Regions from separate parts of the Homo sapiens genome. Here region 2 is linked to region 1. A link means that fine-mapping ties the variant in region 1 to the expression of a gene that starts in the linked region. Tissue or cell type: cerebral cortex. Region 1 holds a variant in brackets; the other region holds the start of a gene. All regions are shown on one strand. Distances are between the middles of the regions.

Region 1 (2,761 bases):
GTCAGTGAGATCTCCACTTTGCTTATTCAAAATGTGCTCTCTGCGACTGGGTTTAGGGTCTCCCCTTGAGAAAAGCGGTTGGGTGGTTGGTGAGGGAAGGGGGCTTATTCCACAGACTTCTTTATAAGGTGAATAAAGGGGTATAGGACTTTTTGGAATTTTAGGTACTCTTGCTTAAAAAAAAAAAAAGGGAGAGCAGGAATTTCCGTCTGATTTGAGGGAAAGTCCCTTTCCAGACATTTTCTTCAGCTGACAGCTACTCACCAAATGCTTTTGTCTTTTTCGGTTTATAGGAACCATGTGCTGAGACAGAAGGTTTCATGACTCTAACTAAACTTATATTCTATTACATTAAAGATGGTTATTTATTACGTTGTTGATTCAGAATGATCTTTTATAACTCATAATTACTTATACCAAATCAAACTCAATAAATGTCTTAATTGGCACATTGCAGTAACGGACTGACACATAAGCAAGTCTATACACCTGTGTGTAAAGATGTAAAACCACAGATAAAAATTCCTGTAACTACAAATGCTTCTATTTCCTGGAATGTGAATACAGATTAACATGCAATGGATTGCATCTCAGCTGAACAGGTACTTTTTTCTTTTCTTTTCTGCAATTAAATATTATGATTTTACTTAAAGAGTAAATACAGTTTTAAAGTTAAATGAAGGTGGTAGATGAACACAGTGGTTCTCAGCCTTAGCTGCTTGTTGGAGTCACCTGGGAGTTTTGAAGGGTCCTGATGCATGGCAAATTACATCAGAATCTTCAGGATGTGGCTGGGCAAGAGTAGGTTTGAGAACCGTGCAAAAATAATGTGAATTAAGGCATTTAGTGTTCACATGGGGGCCTTCTCACTTTAATGCAGGAGTATATAAGCTTGGCTATCTGATACTGATGCCTGGATCTCATTCCCAGAGATTCTGATTTAATTGGTCCAGGGTGTGGCCTGGGCACTGTAGCTGTGCCAGGTGATTGCAAGATACAGTTGAGGCTTTGAATATACAGCTGTAATGCCCCCTGACAACTGTGAAAGTCCCAGCACTTAGATTGGCTGGGCTCTCAACTTCTGGTATGATCCTCCACATGTCTTTAACTTTTACGATGCCTCAGTTTCCTTTAAAGCAAACTGGAACCTGAGATGATGGGTGGAATGAATGTCCCCTCAGAGCCTTTCCTGCTCTTCAAGGTGACTGAGGCCCAAGAGTGCTTTCATGAGATTGCAGTTACTGATGAGACTCAGCACTTGTGTGTCTTGGCTCTGGGTTCAAGAGTGTGGAGAGCGGCTCAGGTGGCCATGGGATGGATAGGCAGAGGCGGCTGGGAGGAGCGGAGAGTCCGGCCCAGAGACTCAGCCACCTCCTTCAGACAGAAAGGGGCCAGTTAGGGGCTGGCTGGACAGTGAAGGTGTTGATAAAAAGGGGCTGAGTGTTCCCCACCCTCTGGTGGACATATGATGTTGGATATCTCAGGTAGTCACCTGGTGAGACACTGTTGGGCTCAGAACTATAATAAAAACAGAATACATGTCTTTGCAGTTGATTCT[C/A]CAAAGGTTTTATTTTGTTTTTATAGTTCCTCATAACTCTGTCTTTATGCGGCATAAGTGTGTTTCCAATTCTTTTTTGGACTGGTCCAAAAACATACATGTGGAAAGATTTAAAAAATCCTGCATCATCCTTTGGATTATAAGAATATTAATAATCAAAAGCATAGCTCTCATTTCTTCAGGGCTTACTAGGAGTGTCTCTGTGCAAAACACTTTACTTTTTAATTTTAATTAGCTCATTTAATTTTTACACCAACAGTCTGAGCTAGGTACTACTATGATTACTACTATTATCATCCTCATTTAATAGTTGAGAATACTGGGTTCCACAGAGGTTAAGTGACATGCACCAGGTTACACAGTAGAGGGCAGAGTCTGGATTTGAATCCAGGACTGTCAGACCCAAAGGCAAAGTGCTAAACCACCACAGTTTACTACCCAGAGCACACCGTGGGTACATGCTGGAGTAGAGCCTCATTTTATAGATAGAGTGCCAGGCCCAGAGACCAGATGGATCTTTTCACCTGCAAAACAACAGCTGACCTCCCAAATGGTCCTGGGTGACAGGTCTTAGGGCTACACACATTTTGCAGATGAGGAAACTGCCATCCAGAAGGACACATGGCTGGTAAGTGGAAGGGCTTGGCCAAGCCCACCTTTTGGGGGTATAACACGTGCTCCAACCACCACTCACACTACAGGGGTTGGCAGAGCCTGATGGACTTGGTTGACTGTCTCTTCATCTCTGGATCCCAAGCCCCAGGCATGATGCCTGGCACATGGTGGGCTTGCAATCAATATTTGCTGAATAAGAACTCCAAAGACCAGACGTGCACAGACACATAGCCCCGCCCTCCACCAGATGCAGCCTTTTAGAGATTCAAGCTTGTGAATTACCTCCCCAACATGAGGAGCAATTGGTATTTTATGCAAATGTCTGACACCTGAATCTACTCCTCTGACTGCATTCACCTTCTTTACCCAGACTGTAAGTCAGCGATAACACTGTCTCATAGTAAGGGTCCTCAGACACTCACAGGCACCTCAGCCTTAAGGCAGTGAGCTCTGGATGGGGATTCAGAGACCCAGTTCAAACCTAGGTTTCAACATGAGTGATCTGGTGCTAGGCCCAGCCTCAGTTTCCCCACTTACGTGGTAGAGATGTAGATGCCCTTTCTGTCACTACGCAGCTCCTCCCCTGGC
Region 2 (2,761 bases), 73 kb after region 1:
TAGGAGCCCCCTGCTAAGTTGCTGAGCGAGTCGGAGCCCCAAGAGCTAGGGTCGAGGGGGTGGGGCAGCAGGCGCCTCTGCCGAGGCTGCAGGTAGGCACTTCCCCACCCCCGCGGCCCCCTCCTTCCTCCTTCCTCGCAGCTCGCACACCCACACAACCCTCGCCCGTCGCGGCTGGAGAGCTGCTCTCGGCGCCAGCGGGCAGCAGCGCGTCGTCAGCCAGCACAGCCGGCCGAAGACCAAGCCGGAGGTCTGGGGCTGCGCAGAGACCTGCACACCCGCAGCGCGGAACCGGGGGCGATTCCTATCTTTCTTTCATGCTTCTTTCTTTTTCTTAAAACCAAACCAAACCAAACCAAACCCAAAACTCCCCTGCTCCCACCGCAACTTGGAGGAGCGGTGGACCGATTTGAAGGAACTGACGCAGAGGTTTTATTCACGAACCTTGAAGAAGTTCTGGGCAAGTGACTCAACAGGACCCGCGGGGCCCGGGGTAGCCCCAGCTCCCGGCGCTGGTTCAGTCTGGCAGTGCCCTCTGGCAGCCAACCCGCAGCTGCAGGTAGGGGTGCTGGACGCCCCCTGATTTTGTTTTGGGAATAATAATGACACTACCTATAGCCTGGACCCAGGTGGCCTCGCTCGGCGATTGTCCCCACCAGGTAAGCGCACCCCCAGGGGTCTGCATTGGTCACCCGGGTGGGGACCTCGAGCTCCCGAGAAGTCGGTCCATGCTGTTTAGCCACAGGCAGGAGTGGGGAACTGGTAGGAGACAGCTTGCTTTTATCACAGGAAATTGTGGGAGACGGGAATGGAAGGCGGATTTAACATTTTTTATTTTTGCATTGACGCGTGGGGATGAGATGCGTAGGGGCCTGGATTCTTGTAGGAAATGGTTGCGGAGCGGGGCTGGGTGATAGGTGTCTGGATTTTTGCAGGGACTGAAGGGGAAGAAAGGTCGTCAGTTTTTGCAGAAACCTGTGAGGAACTGGCGGTGAGAGGTTATGATCCTGAAAATGTGCACGAAATTGTAAAAAGTAGGCACCTAAGCATTTCTGAGAAATGATGGGAGAAGCACTTACCGCCCTGGTTTCACCTGACCCCCATGCTCGGCCTTCTGGAAGATGCCCACAGACACTGGCAATAATGGACGCTGGCACACTCTGCCGGCGCGGCCGGAGCCCCGGAGTTCAGCACCTCGGACAGAGCCCGAGCCCCGCCGCCCGAGGCGCACAGTGAGCGTGGAACAGCCCGGCTCCCTAGCCCCCGGCCAACGCTGCTCTCAGTTCAGGGCAGCTACGTAACACCGCCCCTAGCTCCGCGCCAGAAAGGGCTCTCGAATCGCAAAAGCAAACGTGTTCGATTTCTGATCTGCTTCTAACTGCTTCCCGTGACTGCAGAAGGAAGAGGCGGAGTGTAAAGATATCTCCCAAGCTTCCGCGAAAACTACAGGCAAACTGTGTGGCCTCCCCGGATTTCGGAAGGTGTACCCAAACTTCTTTAAAAATCTAGCATTTATTAAGCGCTTACCATGTGCCAAGGCCCCGTGCTAAGCCAGTGCACCACAAATTTGTGTCCTATGAGTATCCCCATTTTACAGATGAGAAAACTGAAGCAAGAGAGGCCGAGTAACTTGTCCAGGTTTATGGAACTAGCAAATGGTATGGCTGCGCTCTTAAACGCTGCCAGATTGCAGTGGTGGGAGGATGTGCTTGAGTGGAATTCCCTGCGTGAAATAGCTCTGAACTTGGGATCAGAGGAACAGAGTTTAAATCAAAGCTGTAGCACTTAAAAACGTGTGCCCTTAGACAAAATTACTAAATGTGTCTGAACTTCAGATTTTAACTATCTGTAAATACTTGATAATGCTTTCCTTGCAAAAGTGTCAGGGGAGGGTGGCCAAGGAGATCATATGTGTGGAAAGACTGGCAAACTGGGAATTGTGGTTGGGTGTTAGGGGCTGAAAGGAAGGAGCAGGTAATTAGAAGAGAAGGAGAATTGGTGGTGAACACTTCCCTCAGCACACTCCAAAGGGACTGGGCACAGAGCGGGGCTCAGTGGGAGGAATTCTGGATGAGCTTAGTTCAGTGTGTAATAGCCTCTTAGATTTTTTAACAGGACTTTATAGAGAGTGTGGACATATTGCCTACCATTTGATCCTTATAACAATGTTGTTAAGTAGGCAGGACTGGGGTTATTCTACTTGTTTGGCAAAATGATGCTTGCCCAAAATTACTCAGGTACTTAGTAGCAGAGCTGGGATTAGAATCCAGATCTCCCGCCTCTCTAGCTTATAATCCTTCCACATGGACTGGCACATCCTCAGGAGCTTGAATTATGGGGCAGTTAAGCACTAAAGTGTATTTAGACAAGTACTATAAATATGTGACATTAATGGTTTTTAAAACCATTTTGAAACAGCAGTTTCATATGGATTAATCTCATAAATGTTTATTGATTATATTCTATTTTGTTCCACAAAGAATTTAAAGCAATTTAGAAGGCTCCACAAGATGTCAGGTTTGCACGTATTCGAAGTAGTCGAGAAAACAGAGGTGAAACAAGATTAAGGCTATAGCCACAGATAAAATGAATACAAAGTATGTATATTATAAAGTCCTAGAAACTTGCTCTGGTCTCTAAGTACTAGAAAGTGTATAACCAAGCACTTTCTTGGAGGTCTAGGAACTTTGAAAATGTTTGCAAAAGTCCGTAGACTCTTCTCTTTTGTATAATTCCATCCCTTGCCCTCTGTGAGATCTTC

Which allele goes with the higher level. Alleles are on the strand shown, and positions count from the first base shown. SD is a standard deviation of normalised expression in the study named.
For the expression in cerebral cortex of the gene that starts at base 1,376 in region 2, allele C in region 1 goes with a higher level than allele A (small effect, 0.16 SD a copy in GTEx).

Evidence for each region. PIP is the estimated chance that this variant, and not a neighbour inherited with it, causes the effect.
Region 2: it holds the start of ANKRD34C-AS1, and the variant in region 1 is fine-mapped to the expression of ANKRD34C-AS1 in cerebral cortex (GTEx, PIP 0.98). The same link has a PIP of 0.9 or more in cerebellum.

The regions. Positions count from the first base shown.
Region 1 is chr15:79,210,044-79,212,804 of GRCh38, forward strand. The region is part of intron 1 of ANKRD34C-AS1 (ANKRD34C antisense RNA 1); the gene reads right to left. Among named protein-coding and RNA genes, the nearest start is that of MIR184, 1.6 kb to the left of the region's middle. The variant C/A (reference allele first, on the strand shown) is at 1,559.
Region 2 is chr15:79,282,570-79,285,330 of GRCh38, forward strand. ANKRD34C-AS1 (ANKRD34C antisense RNA 1) reads right to left here and starts at 1,376. Exons shown (of 2, transcript NR_038997.1): 1 at 1,080-1,376. ANKRD34C (ankyrin repeat domain 34C) reads left to right here and starts at 153. Exons shown (of 2, transcript NM_001146341.2): 1 at 153-659. RefSeq lists an enhancer at 88-627 and a silencer at 279-477.